Regions from separate parts of the Homo sapiens genome. Here region 1 is reported to be linked to region 2. The links are microRNA targets in miRTarBase. Many come from high-throughput screens and were not tested one by one. Region 2 holds a microRNA gene; the other region holds the end of a gene's coding sequence.
The links. Region 2 holds the annotated microRNA hsa-miR-4529-3p (AUUGGACUGCUGAUGGCCCGU, at 4,057-4,077, shown strand). A microRNA usually pairs through its seed, bases 2 to 8, with sites in the 3' UTR of a target mRNA and lowers its output. Matches are read on the target gene's strand: a 7mer-m8 pairs with bases 2 to 8, a 7mer-A1 pairs with bases 2 to 7 and ends in A, and an 8mer does both.

Region 1: the mRNA of REPIN1 is a reported target of hsa-miR-4529-3p. The part of its 3' UTR that is shown has no 7-base or 8-base seed match.

Annotation. Positions count from the first base shown.
Region 1 is chr7:150,371,175-150,381,566 of GRCh38, reverse strand. It overlaps REPIN1 (replication initiator 1), which reads right to left. Exons shown (of 3, transcript NM_001099695.2): 3 at 7,528-10,339. The coding sequence ends at 8,622. It overlaps ZNF775 (zinc finger protein 775), which reads right to left and starts at 2,237. Exons shown (of 3, transcript NM_173680.4): 1 at 2,175-2,237. REPIN1-AS1 (REPIN1 antisense RNA 1) reads left to right here and starts at 8,624. Exons shown (of 4, transcript NR_183429.1): 1 at 8,624-8,726. It overlaps ZNF775-AS1 (ZNF775 antisense RNA 1), which reads left to right. Exons shown (of 2, transcript NR_183445.1): 2 at 1,379-1,722. RefSeq lists enhancers at 1,019-1,078, 3,089-3,248, 7,900-8,049, 8,110-8,229 and a silencer at 1,869-2,678.
Region 2 is chr18:55,475,214-55,482,213 of GRCh38, forward strand. It overlaps MIR4529 (microRNA 4529), which reads left to right and starts at 4,008; the gene lies at 4,008-4,085. The region is part of intron 3 of TCF4 (transcription factor 4); the gene reads right to left. The region is part of intron 1 of TCF4-AS1 (TCF4 antisense RNA 1); the gene reads left to right.

The DNA of each region.
Region 1 (10,392 bases), not on the chromosome of region 2:
GCGGTGGGGGGTGGGGATGGCGGGACGCAAACAGTGTGAGAGGACTCTGAGAGACATTCCCAAGGTGCAAGACAAATTCGATTTAGGTCGTTGCTGTTGCCATCACCCGCTCCCCACTCAGGGTTATAAGAACTGTACCTCAGGGTATGAACAGCCAGCCTGGTTTCATGGCTTCAGTTTGCTCCCCTCGACATTCCCAGGAGACCTGATCTGCATGCAAGCAGGTCACTTGCCTTATCCACTATGCCTGCCCACCTCCCAGAGGTCCCCAATTCAACCCCAGCCATGATCCTGAGGTACCTCCTTCCAAGACTTCCTTCACCGGCCAGAGGTAAACACGCTTGCTGGAACTGTCCCACCCACACCTCCCCTGCGCCACACCCCTGGCCCCCTCCTCCTCACCCACCTCCCTTCAGAGGCGAGAGCTGCACTTACATTCCTCGGCCCCAATTCTAATATTCAGGAACCTGTCAGGGCCTGCATCTGAGCTGAAGGCCGAGGATAAACCCAGCTGCTAACAATCTCTGAAGAGGTGTCACATTTTAATTAATAAACACGTTTGCATCCCTTGCTGCATTCAAAGGACCTTGGGAAAGCAAAGTGAGATGGAGCAGGGACCCCTTCAGGCACCTGCTGTGCCCTCCAATCATGAAAATAAAGGAAAATCTTGAGTTCTTTCCAGGGAAATTCCAGGCACCTAGCTGGTCCTGAGAAGTAAATGTGCAACCTGATAAGAAGGTAATCGTAGCTAAAATAATAGCAAGGAAGTCAGACCACACGAAACGTGTGGTTGCCTAAAGAAACTAAAGGTAACATCTTAGCATATGTCCTTGAGTTGTTTTTCAGAAACCCAGACCCCCACCAAATGGACTTGCTGGCACGCACACCTCGGATAAGAGGGAACTGAGAACTCAACTCTGCTCATCTTTCCCCATTGCACCCCGACACGCCCCATCCTCTCGTGGCTCTTGAACTCACCGTGTCCTCGCACCCTGTGACCAACCTTGGAAGGCCCTTGCTCAGTTCTCCCCTTCCCAGCCCAGATTAGGGATCGCTTTGACCAGGAAGCCTTTTTGGACACACCAGGCACAGCCAGGAATCCCTTCTCTGTTTAACCTGTGCACCTAGGACCATCTACATGGAATCATCATTGTCATCAATTTGTTAGTCTGCACAAGACTACATGCATCTTAACACAGGGTCCTTCTCTCTCCCCTGCACCCAGTACAGGCTCCACACACAGTAATCCATTAATAAAAACTGTCATAAGGGAACACTTAAATAAAAGAAATTTCAGTACAAAACAGATTTGAAGCACGGAAGCATGAACCTTCAAGCTGAAAGGAGACAACTGCCATCTAATCTCTTCATTTTACAGATGAACATGGGAACAGTTAGCTGTGAAGCCTTGGGCTGTCGTCCGCCTCCAACCCCTGGGGCTCTGACCACACCCAGCCCCAGCTCAGATCATCTTGCTCAAAGGGCCGAAGGAGGACCCATCTCCACACCTTCCACATGTAGATATCCTCAACGTTCTTCACAGAGGGGATGCCCGCACCCCGCCCCACCGAGTTCGCGGCTGCTGTGCCCATCTTCCTAGAGAGGAGTTCTCCGCCACACCCGACACCACACACTTCCAACTTCTGCGGTGCTTCCCTCTCACTTATCTCCACCCCCAATCCTTATCCCCGCTCGTTTAATCACACATTTATTGGTCACCTACTATGTGTCTGTCACTCTGCAGCGAGCATTGGGGTTCCTGCCCCCAGAAACTGATCTATCAGGGAGGCGAACAGGGACGGGGAACTCGGAACAACGGGACAGCCCAGGAGAGACCGCCCGCGGGCGACCCCTCTACTCGCCACCGCGTCCTCCCTCCATTCTCACTAGCCTCCCTCCTAACCTCGCTGCCCTGGCCTGGCGCCCTCCCCACCCTCGGCCGCGCCCCTTTCCCCTCGGCTGTGTCGGGGCAGAGGGAACGCTTGAGACCCGGGGCTCGGGGGGCGCGCGGGGCTCGGGGCACCCCAGGCCCCCGCCCCATCCCTCCGCCCCAGCCCGGGCCGGGCGGAGGCAGCACGGGAGGAGCGGGGCCGGGCGCTGGTCCATCCCTCGCACCGCCCCTCCCCGCCCAAAATGCAGAGGGACTCGGAGGGAGGCGACGGGGAAATAAATACCTTTGACTTTGTGGCTAAGGTTAACGGGAACTGCCACCCCGAGGGCGACTTGGGCACCGGGCTCCCGGCCCTGGCCATTCCCGGGGCAGGCGGGGCGGGCACGGGTGCCTGATTGGCTGGCGGGCCTGGCCATCCCCGGGGCCGCCCAGCCACTCCATTGGCTGCGCCGCTCAGATGACCCGCCCGGCCCTATCGGAGCAGCCCGCGGGGCGGCTCCTTTGTTCTCTGGAGCCAATAGCCGAGGGGGGAGGGCTGACCTCGCCCCCGGCGGGCGCGCAAGGCCCGGGCGCCGTGAGCGCGCTAGCCGCCGGCCGCGGGGAGGAGACCTTGGGAGGTCGGGCCCCAGATGGCCGGCGGCGTCCTGGCACCCCTGCCAGGCCTGGACTCCGCGTGCGACCCCGTTGTAACGCCTGAACTCAGCGCACGTTCGCCGAGCGCCACAGCGCGCCGGACGCTGTTTCTCCCTGCTGGGGACCCATCAGGGCCCGGACAGAAACCCCGGCTGAGGCTGTGGCTGCCCTCAAGCCGCGATAGCCCCACCGTGGGGTGTGATAACTTTTAGGGTTCACTACGAGGGACCTTAGAAATCATTATACCCGACCCCTTCGTTTTCTGTTTCAGGGAGGTGGTCTCGCTCAGACCCCAGTGGCGCGATCATGGCTCAGTGCAACCTCGAACCCGTGGCTCAACCGAACCTCCCAACCTGCTAACTTTTTAAATATTTTGTAGAGATGGGGGTCTCGCCATGTTGCCCAGGCTGGTCTCGAACTCTTGAGCTTAAGTGACCCTGCGGCCTCGGCCTCCCAAAGTGCTGGGATTACAAACCCGCGCCCGGCCTAATCCCTTTGTTTTCTAGCTGAGGAACGGCTCTGAGGTTACGTTACTAGGTCGGGTTACTAGGTAGGGTTCCCGTGAGCGGAATCATCTCCGCCCAGTTGCCACCCCGGTCCAGACTGCCAGACCTTCAGGAAGGAGTATCTTCGCAACTCCCCACCCCATTGTAAGGAAATTCCTCACACTTCTCCCTCAAAGGGGGCGCAGCTGGGTCAACTCCCACTGGCAGGATGCTCTCCGGAGCTGCTAGAAGCTGCCTCTGGGGCATGAGGTAGATACAGACAGAAGCTGGGCCTCTGAGACTCTACAAACGGTTGCTGTTGGGCAGGCGGACCTTATTTTCTTCAGTCAACAGCTGATTAAACATTTGCCACAGGCCCGGCTGCGGTTTAGCCTCAGTAGCACAGCAGGAACTGGGGACTGAGATTCGATTTTGTCACTAACTTCATGTGTACTTTTTATAAAAGATACTTTTCTGTTTCTGGACTTTGACTTATTCGTCTATAAAATAGGGTTAATAATTTTCTAGTTGCCTGCATACCTTACTGAGTTTTTACCGTTAATTTGGTTATATTATCTATAGAAGGATTTGTAAAATACAAAATCATACACACCCTATAAAGAGGCCACACATCACTAGCTATCAACACTTTGGAGTCTCATTCTCCTGTTTATTTTTTTAAAGACGGGGTCTTGCTATGTTTCCCAGGTTAAAGTACAGTGGCTATTCACAGGCACAATCATAACGCACTTCAGCCTCAAACTCCTGGCCTCAAGGGATCCTCCCACCTGAACTACACCTGAGACTACTGGCATGCACCACCACACCTAGCTTATTTTCTAGAAGAGTACCTAGAAGAGGTTCTACGAAGGCTTGTGGAATACATTCCTGTTGCTGAGACCAGTATTCTAGTTCCAGATTTGCCACTGGCTACAAGTGTTGAGACAGAGCAGGAACCTCTCTTAGGGGTCTGCCACCAGCCCCCCATTCAATGCACGAAAATAAAGAAACATTTGAGTCCCTTCAAGGGAAATTCCAGGCACCTAGCTAGCCCTGCAACCAGCAATTAGGGAAGTGAATGAATGACCTGCTAAGCAAGAAAGTAGTAATAGTTTAAACAATAGTACCCAAATAAGAGTCACAAAACGTTAGCTTCCTTATAGAAACTGAAGATGACATCTTGACATATGTCCTTGAGTTGTTTTTCAGAAATTAGGACCCCCACCGGTGGGGGTCACTTCCACTCTCTGGGCCTGTTTCCTTCTTACAGAGCAGACTTCCTCCAGATTGGCATCCCATGACCAAGGGTATTTCAGAGGTGGAAAGAATGGAGAACCTCTGGGATCCTATTTCCACTAAGAAAAAAAATACCAGGGGGAGAGGCTGCATATGTGTTTGCAAATACACAGGAAAAAAGTGTTAGGAGAATACTCCTCAAACTTTTCTCAGTGTAAACAAAAAGGATTTTGAGAGTGGAATAGGGGAATGAAGGAGAACGTTCACATTATTATCTGAATTATTTATTTTTAAAGATAATTTAATGCTTTTGTAATTGTAGAAGAAAACAAAGAAAAACTGTGGATTCTTCAGAAGAGATGGGCAGCTCCTGCCAGCAGACCCCTACAACCCAGGCAGTCCTCCCCAGTGACTGCTGTGGTGATGAACCAGGCAGAGCAAGGGCTTGAGAACCACTGGGCCACCCACCAAGGGACTCAGGAAGGAACCAGGCACAATTTGACTCTGTTCCTGCTTTACCAGCCCCCTCAAGGCCACTTGTGTGACCTTTCCGTCCTTTGGACCTCTCTTTCCCATCCCCATAACAAGCAGTGGGCAGTGAAGCACTGACGACACCCACACCCCGCTTTCCCCATATCCCAGACTATTTCCTTTAAACGGGACTTTTCAAAAGGTTAGGACCCCTGGTCAGATCCCCTCTCACCCTCATCCTTGTCCCTAACGGCTCCAATACTAACCTAGGTGCCAACCCAAGGACCCGCCCCTGCTCCCTGCCCATCATTTCCAGACATCGACCTACTCTTTCCTGGCCATCTCCCCTTCCCTGGAAACCCTGTGTTCCCACAAAGAGAAAAAATGTGACTGGGGCTTTCTTGAGACCACGCCCTCTGCTCCCAGGCTTTGACAGATAATTTGCCATCAACTACACAGGTTTTTAAGTGGCTCCATAACCCCATAAACCAATATGAAGCTTTGAAGCTGTTCTTTCCATCCTACACACTTTAAGCCCCACCCACACAGTTGGCATTTAATACTTAACCAAAAACAGCAGCACGCAGCGTTCATCCACTAAGCACACAGCGGTTGTCAAGAGCACAGGTTTCAGGAGTCAGACAGACTTGAATTTGAATCTGCCTCTGGTGATTACCAGTTATATGACTGTGGGCAAATGTTTTCATGTATAAAAGAAGACTACCTCCCACACAAGGACACATGAGATAATTTAGGTAAACTTCACCAGGTGCCACTCACGTCAACAAATTGTGGTTATTCTTATGTGCTCTGTGCTAAATGCTGGAGATATATGCAGAAATTGCTAACACAGGCAAGAAAAGAACTATTAATGCCTGGTAAAAAGAGGTACTCAAATTTGTATGAAACCACCAATTCAGGGACGCATACAGAGTGACTGCTCACAGAAATCTGGAGTCCTACAGCAGGCCGGCCAGGGACACTGTAGGACAGAATCAAATCAGCCCCCTTTCCTGCCTAGCAACTAGCACCTGAAAAGTCTGACCTGACCTTGAGATGGAGCAGAGACCCTCTTTTTTAATTTTTTTTTATTTTTATTTTTTGAGACAGAGTTGTTGCCCAGGCTGGGGTGCCATGGCGCGATCTCGGCTCACTGCAACTTCTGCCTCCTGGGTTCAAGTGATTCTCCTGCCTCAGCCTGCCGAGTAGCTGGGATTACAGGCATGCACCACCATGCCCGGCTAATTTTGTATTTTTAGTAGAGACAGGGTTTCTCCATGTTGGTCAGGCTGGTCTCAAACTCCTAACCTCAGGTGATCCACCTGCCTCGGCCTCCCAAAGTGCTGGGATTACAGGCGTGAGCCACCACGCCCAGCCTCAGAGACTCCACTTAGGAGCCTGCTGGGTTCTGCCCATCACTTGAAAAGCATGAGAATAAACAAAAATGTGAGTCCCTCCCAGGGAAATTCCAGGCACCTAGCTAGCTCTACAACCATGAATTGGGGAAATGAATGAATAACCCGCTAAGCAAGAAAGTAATAATAGCTTAAACAATAGTCACTCAAGTAGTAGTCACAGAATGTTAGCTTCCTCATAGAAACTAAAGATAACATCTTTTTGTTTGTTTTGTTTTTTGGGTTGTTTGTTTGTTTTGAGACAAAGTCTTACTCTGTTGCCCAGGCTGGAATGCAGTGGCACGATCTCAGCTCATTGCAACCTCCGCCTCCCAGGTTCAAGCAATTCTCCTGCTTCAGCCTCCCTAGTAGCTGGGACTACAGGGGCCCGCCACCACACCCAGCTAATTTTGTATTTTTAGTAGAGATGGGGTTTCACCATGTTGGCCAGGCTGGTCTTGAACTCCTGACCTCAGGTGATCCACCCACCTCGGCCTCCCAAAGTGCCGGGATTACAGGCATGAGCCACCATGCCTGGCCTAAAGATAACATCTTGACATATATCCTTGAGTTGTTTTTCAGGAGCCAGGACCCCCACCAATGTCACCACGTGACAATGCCAGCACGTAGACCTCAGACAGACTGGAACCAGAAAATGGATAAGGAAGTTCCAGAAATTCCTCAGCCCCTAACTCCCTTTGAAACCTCCCCACCCCTGCCTTAAAAACCCTTGCTTAAAAGCCATCAGGGAGTTTGAGCCTTAGCTGCCCATTCTCCTCGCCTGGTGCTCTGCAATAAACGCCTTACTTTCTCTGGCTGCAAATCTCACTGTCGGTGTTAGGCTTTGCAAACACTGGGCAAGTGGACCCAGGCTGGGTTTGACAACAACCTCAAAGAAGGCTGAAACCCTGGTGTGTGGAGTGTGGAAGCTGAGTGCTGTCTTAGCTGCAGGGAACAGCCTCCCCTCCCAGAGGCTCCTTCATCTGTCCAACCTCTGAAGGACTACTGGAGGCACAGTCCAAGTATAACCAAAGTCCGTTTAACACCCAGCACCCCTCAAAAGAGCTCATAGTGCTTGCTGTAGTTTCATAAAGGCCCAGGTGGTGAGAAAGATTAGGTGTTGCTGGGCCCATCTAGGAGGGCAAGTGACCAAGAACATAAATCTTGGGACCAAGCTGAGAGCATTCCACCCACCACAGTTCTCTGGAGCTTCGGCCCACCACCCAGAGAATTAGCCCAACTGCCTGGGTATGCTCAGGGAAGAACTGAGGCAGGGGGCCAGAGCTCAGCAAGCTGGGCATGTGGCCTGTGGCCAGAGCCCCACCCACAGCCCCCCGTCCTTCTAGGGAGGAGAGCATGCTGCTCCTCCTGACATGTCGCAGCTCCCCCAGAAAAAGTAACACTCCCCAGCCACCAGTTCTAAAACCAAATCTTTATTCTCTAGTTTGAAAAGGAGGGGTAAATGGTTGTTCTGTTTAGTTCCAGAGAACAGAACAAGGCCCAATAGGTAGAAATTATAGGAAAGCAGAATTCATTCATTATAAGGAAGGATTTCTAACAATTAGAATTTCTAACAATTAGAATCATCCAGGGCCTCAGGAGGTGCGGAAGTTCCTGTCACCTAAGTGCTCAAGCAGAGGCCAGGTGTCCATATGCTAGAAATGGAGAAAAGGAAACTCACCAGCAACTTCCCCTCAGCTGGCCCTCCATCACCAATGCGGCAGTCCTTGCCGTGACATGCTGAGCTCTGGAAGGAGCGAAGGAGGGGCTGCGGTGTTCAGACAAGAGCCTGGACACAGTGCTGCTGACAGCCAGGGGAGGCTCTCAGCGCTGGGAGGGGCGACAGATAAAGCGAGACAGACCAAGGAGTAAATGCCTTGGGATCTGCTCTTTGGGAAGGAAGAGGATGGAAGTATTAACAGCAGACGGGTCTCTCCAAGTCTGGGTGCCTACGCAGGGGGCAGGTGGGAGGGGAAGGGAGAGGTAAGAGTGGCTTCGCTTCACCTCTTGCTGCTGGCAAAGGCCCAAGTGCTGTCTAACAAGGCCAGCAGGTTCTCCAAGCTGTATCTAGCCCAGAGCATTCATTTACAGGACTCTACCACGCCTGCTTCCAAAAATGATCTTAAGTAACTTACAGTAAAAGACAGGGGCATTAAGGCGTTAATACCAGAGGATGGAGGGTCTTCCTTTCCACTGGTGGCTCCTCTAGCCAGAGGGCTCTAAGGGGCGGATGCTATTGCTGCTTTTCCAGGGCACAGGGCAGTCAGGACGGAGCCTTAGCACACACCAGCTGGAGGCCGGCGTCCCTGCGCTTGGAAGTGGGTTCCCTGGCCACCGGGGTTGACCTCTCTCGCTAGCAGGGCCCACCCAGCTCACTCCCCGCGTCTTCCATCCCCTCTAGGATTCCCATTGTCCCCTACTCCAGCACTAGGCAGGCACCCCCAGCCCACTGCGACTCCCACCACGAAGGACCCCAGCCCTCTCTCAGCCAACACGGCCCCGCCCACCGTCTCAGACATCGTGCTTCTTCTGGTGGGCCAGGAGTCTCTCCTCGTCGTCGAAGGTCTGGCCACAGATGGCACAGCAGAAGGCGCCGTCCCGGATGTGGCTCTTGCGGTGGGTGATGAGGTTGGACTTCTGGCTGAAGCTGCGGTCGCAGTCGGGACAGGCGTAGGGCCGCTCGCCCGTGTGGATGCGCCGGTGCGACACCAGGTTGGACTTCTGGCTGAAGGCTTTGCCGCAGTCGGGGCAGACGTAGGGCTTCTCGCCGGTGTGGATGCGCCGGTGCGCCGCCAGGTAGGGTTTGTGGCGGAAGGCCTTGCCGCAGTCGGGACACACGAAGGGCCGATCGGGGGCGTGGTCGCGCCGATGCGCCGCCAGATGGCTGCCCTGGGAGAAGCGGCGGCCGCACTCCTCGCAGGCGAAGGGCCGCTCGCCGGAGTGCACGCGCGAGTGCGCCACCAGGTGCGTCTTCTTGCCGAAGTTCTTCCCGCACTCGGCGCAGGTGAAGGGCCGCTCCCCGGTGTGCTGCCGCTGGTGGGCCCGCAGGAAGCGCTCCAGCCGGAAGCTCCTGCCGCAGTCGTCGCAGCTGTAGAGGGAGGGGGGGGCTTCGATCGGGTCCTGCGGGTGCTCTGGCGGGGCCCCTGGCGGCGGCTCCTGGGCCGGTTTCAGAGGTACCGCCGGGGTGGGCTCGGCCGCGGACTCCTGGGGGCCGGCTGGCAGCTGGGGGCTCCCCGGGCCGGGGGCGGCCTGGGCCGACCCCTCGGATCGCTTGTGAATCTTGCTGTGAGACAGCAGGTTGGGTTTGTGCCGGAAGCGGCGGCCGCACTCTTTGCACGGGTAGGGCTTCTCGCCGGTGTGGATGCGCCGGTGCGAAGTCAGATAGGGCTTATTGGTAAAGCGCTTCCCGCACTCGGGGCACTGGTGGGGCCGCTCGCCCGTGTGCACGCGGCGGTGAGCGATCAAGTTGGGCTTGTGCCGGAAGCGCTTGCCACAACAGGCACACTGGAAGGGGCGGTCGACGGCATCTCCACCGGGCCGGGGGGCGGTCACCGCGGGGCGGCCCCTGGGCCGGGGCCCCAGAGCCTTGGCTGCGGCCTCCTCCAGGGCCTCAGCTACGTGCACCCGCTTGTGGGCAACTAGCTGGTCCCACTGGGCAAAGCTCCGGCCACAGTTGCCGCATATGAAGGGCCGGGCCTCCGGGGCGGGAGGGTGGCACCGCCGCAGATGAGCTCGAAGCTGCTTTCGTCGCCAGAAGCGTCTCTCGCATTTGGGACAAGCGATGGGCCGCTTTGCAGCTGAATGGGCCCGCAGATGCAGAACCAGGGCCACCCAGCCTCGGAAGCTCTGCCCACAGAGGTGGCAGGCAAAGCCCAGGTCTGGGGTGGCAGCAGCATGGACCTGGCGGTGCAGTGCTAAGAAGGGGGCATGGCGAAAGCGACGGCCACACTCAGGGCAGGGCAAGGGCAGCCGGGCCTGGCACCGGCGGGTGTGAAGCCACAGAGCCACCCAGCCAGGGAAGTGCCTTCGACAGTGGGCACAGCGATGGGCCCTGCCTGGGGCTTGGGCACCAGACTGGGCCACTGACGTGCCTTGTTGCCTCAGCCCGCGGGACTCCTTCCCCAGGGTCTGGGGTGACTCCTGGGAGGGCCCAGAAAGGAGTCGGGGCTGGGCCAGGCCCATGGCCAGGGGGCCCCTGCAACGACGTTCCAGCATCGGTTCTTCCTCTGCTGAGGGTGGAAAAGCACAGTCACTCCAGAGACCAACTCACTCTGCCCCTGTT
Region 2 (7,000 bases):
ACATAATTCCTCAGCCTTTTCCTTCTGTGATATTAGAATTTTGGAAGAATACAGGCCAGTTATTTTATGGAAATGTTTCTCAATTTGGGAGGATCAGATGCTTCCTCATGATTATATTCCAGTGGATATAATACTACAATAGTGGTCTGGTGTCCTTCCCAGGACATCACTTCCAGAGCCCCTTGATGGCATGTTGGTCTGCCCCTCATGTGCTATGCCAATTTTGATCACCTGGTCAAAGTGGCATGCAAATTCTGCAATGTATGATTATAATTTGTCCCTGTTGAACTAATCAGTAACCTATGGAAAGATTCGTTAAGAACATTCAAACTAATTTTTAAGTATGTGCTTATTGAAAAAAATTAAAATACAAAAATGTATAAGGTAAAAAGTGATAATGCCCTCAAGTCTCACTTGTACCACTCTTAGACAAGCGATAACCCATCACAGCTTCCTATTTCCTTACATATCTTCACGTCTCTGATCAACTGGTTTTGACAGCCGCAGAAATGTAGGGCAATAAATGCTAAACTTGACTGAAGTTTCTGTTCTATTTGAATTGGTAAGAAATATTCTTCAATCGTTGATCATCTAGTGACATTTCAATGGAGACAATGATTAGTTGTAGCCCTGTGACCTAGGTGGGAGTGGGGAGGGCAGGAACAAGAATATATTTAGGCATATTTTACTATTAATTTTGAAGGAATTTGGCCAAGATGAAGACAAGATGGACTGATCCACTTGTGAATTAATGCAATGTATAAAGGCAAGTTAAAGAATCAGTTTTGGAGCCATGCTATCCTAACAGGCTATTTGGTGCCTCCTCCCACCACATTCTGTAAACCACTGTGTAAAAAGGAGACCTGCCATTTCAGAGGCACTTCCCAATTAAATTCAAATGCAGAGACAAGCATACTCATGACACAGAAAAATTTAGTGTGGTTTCCATGGGCTGACGTACAAAAAAAAAAATTGGAAACATCTAAAATATTTTAGAAGGGGGAGATAAGTTGAGTTGCCACTTTTAAAAGAATATATTCCCACATTTAGAGAGCAGGTATACAAATGAACTAGCCACCTCACAAAGTGAAGAGTGAAGGGTGACCCCAAAAAAGACTGTGAGAGGAACTTTGCCATTCAATACAGCATAAGCATACCATACAATATTGAGTGAGTTAACTTGTTATAATCAATATAAGGTAGAAACAGTCCCTTTAACCTTTAGATGAAGCCCTCGTTGTTTTTTTGTTTTTTGTTTTTTGTTTTTGTTTTTTTTTGAGATGGGGTCCTGCTCTTCATCTAGGGTATATGTAGTGCAGTGGTGCGATCAGGGCTCGCTGCAACCTCAACCTCCCAGACTCAAGCAATCCTCCCACCTCACCCTCCTGAGTAGCTGGGACCACAGGCACACACCACCACACCCAGTGAATTTTTTGTAGAGACAGGGTCTCACTATGTTGCTCAGGTTGATCTCCGACTCCTGGGCTCAGGCAATCCTCCCACCTCAGCCTCCCAAAATGCTGGGATTATAGGCGTGAGCCACCATGCCCAGCCTACAGCCCTTGTCATTTTATAAACTGAACAGTGCTGACATATTTCAACTGTGATTTATAAAGGCTGAGAAAATGTTCCTCACAATTCCACTTCAGCCAAATGCCTGGCAGACATTGGCAAAGGTTTCTCTTACTTGGGCTTATAAATGTGTGTGTGCATGTGTGTGCATGTGCCTGTGTGTGTAAAATCAGCATACACACACACACGATACACAAACTTGCATTTCCTAATAGTTTCTTGATATCAATGATGGTGTTTAAAACAGTTCCCATATGTTACAACTTGTTCAAATGATACCTCCTTATTTTCTATGAAATTGGTCAGAGGAGTCTGACTGGTCATTTGGTCTCACGATAATGTAACCACAATTTTTAATTATGCTTTCTGCTTCCTATTTTTTATATACTCATCTCATTTAAAATGCAATATCTGGGATCATTTAAAGTATAAAATTGGGATCAAGAGAAGTTACCTACCTAAACACGAGCAGACTAAAATCATTTTTCAAAAGAGGAAAAAACAAAAATCACAAGAAAATTGGTAGATGCCCTATATAAAAGAGGCTATTTTGCATAAGACATACTTTCACCCTTTCATGCTATTACGATTACCTGTTTAATTCTAACAGAGAATAGAATACTTGCTAATGTTCACAAGGAATACTTGCTGAAAGAAGAAAGGTGTACGGTGTTATAATGACTGAGTTTTCACAGCTAGCAACGTACATTTTTAAACCATGTCAGCAATGAAAACAAAACTGTGAGTCTCCCCTCTGTGTGTCCTTTTTCACAGGGCAGTGCCCAGGCATACTGCAACACCATTTCACCACCAGGGCACACGCAGTTGCCATCAGTTTAAGAAACGCCCAGGACTTTGCTAGCAGGACAGGTCTATGACGGAAAAATGGACCAAGGTTTCCTCTAAACCATGCTGCTTCCCTTACTTTCACTTTCAGGTTCTATAAAACATGTTCACTACTGAAGTAGTGAAAATACATCTGCCTTACTTTACTAGTCCAGCTGAAAGAGATGAGAACGCATCAACTGATGATTTCTTAGGTTTAATCACATCAAATTCCTGGGAATAGGCATTTTTGGTTCTAGTAGGTCTGCAACTTGGATGCATCCTGCCTTTTGCCCATCTGATAACTAGTGGAATACCGGTCAGAAAGAGATGAGCTGCTCTGAGGTACTGGTCTTACCAATTCAGTAAGTGGAATGGTAAAAAGCTGTAACTCTTCCTCAGGAATGGAAGATATGTCATTAGTGTGAAAGGAGATAGAGGCAAAGACCTGAAGAATGACGATAACCAGACATCTTGAGAGAAAACAAGAAGCAGGGAAGGGGTTCCGGGAAAGCCGGAGCTGTCAGTAGAGAATAATGATTTATCTGATGAGATTAGCAGACAGTTTGATTAGAAAAGATGCCTTTTTAACACAGCAAAGATTGCAATGTTACTTTAAGATTTGTTGTAGGAAAAAGCCGTGCCTGCCAAATGTGGTCTGTAACAGCACAGGCTAGCCATGAGTGATACAGTGGGAAAATAGCCACTAAGCCAGATTTTATTTGATTTGTACTGATGATTTTTATTAGAATACATGGATCATTGCTTCAACCTTTCCATGTAAAACCAAATCAAATTCAAAAACTCACACATCAGTCACCTAACCTTATGTCATTCCTTCTGCTTTACTCAAGTTGAGCCACATTTCAGCTGATCTGTCCCCGATAAATTGTTCAGCTACTCAAAACTGTTGGGCCAAATTCTGGGAGGCAAGTGGTACACAAAAGAAACCGCGAAATCTGCAGTTACAAGTAAGAAACCTACAGAAAAGAAATACTGCAAGCTTCCGAAATGCAGAATGAATTCAAAACAATATACAGCCATGCAAAACAAGACAAAATGAATTATCCTTATTGTACCAAATGAGTTGTAATTTGTTTGTAAAAGGCCCCCACTTCCCCCAGCTTTTTTTACTTAAGCCCTTTTCAATTCAAGACACTGTAAAGAATTTTGCAACCAGAGAAAGTCCACAGTTCTGTGGCATAAGGAGATTTAAACTGCAACAAACAGTTTTAAAATTAAAAATGTTCAAACTTTAAGGTGAAAATTATAAATGTTAAATATTATATTGGTGGGAAATCTCTGTATTATTTAGAAGAATTGTTTCATTAAAAGGAATGAAGTTTAATTACATGAAATATGGCAATGGGTTTCCAAAGAAAAAGTGCCAATAATCTACTTCCCACCATTTCTTTACCTTTTTTGTTTTTGCATTAACATTTTCCCTTTCTTCCTCAAACATTGCAAGTTTCATTTTAAACCTGTAACCAATACTTATGTCCATTTCTAGTTAACAAATCAGTTCCATCTTCTGATTTCCTTTAGTGTCCCAAACCACTCTGAAATGCAAGTTATTATTTTCTCCTCAGAGAAGGTAAATAACTTCCCCAATGACAGGCCATCAGCAGTCCAATGAAGACATGAAGACCCAATGTCTTCATTGGACTGCTGATGGCCCGTCACTGGGAAAGTTATTTATATGTGGCTCATGCTCAACCTCTGGAAGACACTGGATTTTATCAAATACCCAATACCTCTGAAAACTAGTGGTCACCAAACTTGCAGGCCTCTGGTGTAACCCTCTGTGGCTAAAGCCAGGCTATGTTTTCACCAATCCCCATCTCTTTCTGCCCGTGACCACCTAGGAATCTGAAATTCCCCATCTTCCTTTGCAGTCATGGGATCATATGACTAGGATTTGGCCAATAAAATGTGAGCAGAAGTAATACTTGCCTTGTCCAGACCTGGCCCTTAAAATTTCCCATGTAATCGTCTATGCACCACTCTCCTTTTCCTCTTTGATCAGCCTGATGCCAATATCTAGTGAACTCCAAGGTCCTAGGGGATAGCAGACCTGAGCCATGGAAGAAGCCAGGCTAGGACCAGAGCCCACCCACGTTGCTCTGTGACACCGGAGGGTAATAACCCTCTGCAGTGTTAAGCTACTGAAGTTTGGGGATTGTTTGTTCCAGCAATTAGCATACCCTGACTAATGCATCTTCCAAAACAGACTTCCGTGAATTCTGGCACTATGATTCTATCTTCCAAGTAAAGCAAACATACGCAGTTAGAGCTGGCACCAGTCAGAATTCTGAAGCAGGGGAAACTGGTCTTTGAACTATCCTTCTTTCCCTTTCAGACTTGTTTTCCCCTCTTAGCATTTCCTCCCTCTGAGCACCAAATGTTCTCAGGCTGCTCAGTCTCGTCTGTCTCAAGAAAATAGACACAAGATATTCATTATCCATTCTTTCTCTTAACCATTACCTTTTGAATACCATGAGCTGCCTGCTACCTGGGAAATTCTGAAGAACATCTTTAACATCTCACATTGAATGTATCCTCATCTGTAAAATGGGAATGACCGTATTTACCCTCCAGTACTGTTGTGATGATTACAGATAACAAGGAAAATGTTACCATGGAACCTGGAACACAGTAGGAACTCCAAAAAAAAAAAAAAAAAAAAGCGGGGGGGCGGGGGGAGGATATTATGTGTATTACACTTACTGTTATGGTCATAGCATGATATTTGACACCAAAAGGATACAAAATGTACATAAAATAGGACGCTTTCTCTCTGAAATATATAATCTAGATTGGGAAGAAAATCTTACGAAAATAAAATACAGTATTTGGTTACTAAAACAAACATAGCAGAATTTTTGAGAAAGGTGAGTTATATGGGCTAGAATCAACACTTGCAAGGTACTGGTGATTTAGGACAGAGTGATACTAAATTTCAAAGGGGCCTAACAGAAAGGTTCATGATTAACCTAAGGGAATAAACTGCTACACCTCAACATTTTTCATGTCACCTTGTGTAAGGCGTGGCCCTGTTCCCGGTCTCTTTATTGATTCAGTTATTAATTCTGTGTCAACCCTAATACAGATGTCACTAAAATCAAACAAACCCTAGTATCACAGTGGTGGGGGACAAGGATTGATTTTACTTTGTACAAAATCTGGCATAGGCCAGGCGTGGTGGCTTATGGGCCGGGTGCAGTGGCTCACGCCTGTAATCCCAACACTTCGGGAGGCTGAGGAGGGTGTATCACTTGAGGCCAGGAGTTTGAGACCAGCCTAGGCAATATGGTAAAACTCTGTCTCTACTAAAAATACAAAAAATTGCTGGGCGTGGTGGCAGGCACCTGTAATCCTAGCTACTTGGGAGGCTGAGGCAGGAGAATCACTTGAACATGGAAGGCGGAGGCTGCAGTGAGCCAAGACTGTGCCACTGCACTCCAACCTGGGCAACAGAGCAAGACTCCATCTCAAAAAAAAAAAAAAAAAAAAAAAAAATCTGGGATGTATGTAATTTGGAAAGAAGGAAAGAAAGCAGTGGCATCCTGGTGAGCTCTCCGGCATTATATGTGTATTTCTCTAACTCCATTTCAATTTTGTAACACACTGGTAACTCGGAACTGGCACAATGTTGGAAGTATTTACACCATGGAAATTGGCAAAAATGACCAATAACGGCTTTTATTCTTTGAAAAAGAGGTTATTAAACATTTACCACCACATCAATGAAAACAATCATTCATTGTGAGGTATTTGTACTCAAATTGCTTCATTTAACTTTCACAGCCATTACTCAGGTAGACTGTATTATCCTCATTTTACAGATGAAAAATCAGGCCTCACAATGGTAACTGATTGGCAAGAAATCCTGTTGTCTGTGCTCCCTGCACGAAAAACCAGGATGCTTACAAAAGTGAAGAACACCTGGATTTCTTTTTCTCAGTATATCGAAAAGATATTCCCATGAAGACAGAAAGCTGTACTTTAAAAACATCTAAATTCAGGCAGTACTCCTCCCAAAACCTTTAATTTTCTACTCGGCTTCATTTTGCTTCTCTACTCATGTAACTCTCCACTTAATCAATATATACTTCATTTTTACCACCCTGACTCCTAGACGTCCAATTCAACATTTTGGACCTATGTCCTTCCAAGAATAATCCCTTACAATGTCTCAAGAAATAGACTTATGCCTAATGACTGCGATACGTTATGAACAATCTTTAAATCAGTGATTCTTCATACACCTGTCCTCACCAAGGTAGTCTATTCCATCTTGGCCTGAGCTACAGTTACAATGAGCAAGTATGGGTTTAGAAAGAGCTGGGAGATTCCTTGAATTCAGATGAGGTTTCTGATATTTATTTAATAATGACTGTTGTCAACAGCTAGCATCAGGATTGGAGAAGGGCCTAGGGGTGAGAAAAGCCTGAAAACTTCAACAGGTATCAGGTGCAATCTGAGATACAGTGGATCTACTATATTAGCAAGGACAAAATGGTTCTTTGTACCCCTCACCTCTGACACTTCCATGTCAACTTCACCCTAAAGCAGGCTTCTCTCATGGTCATAGGATTCCAGA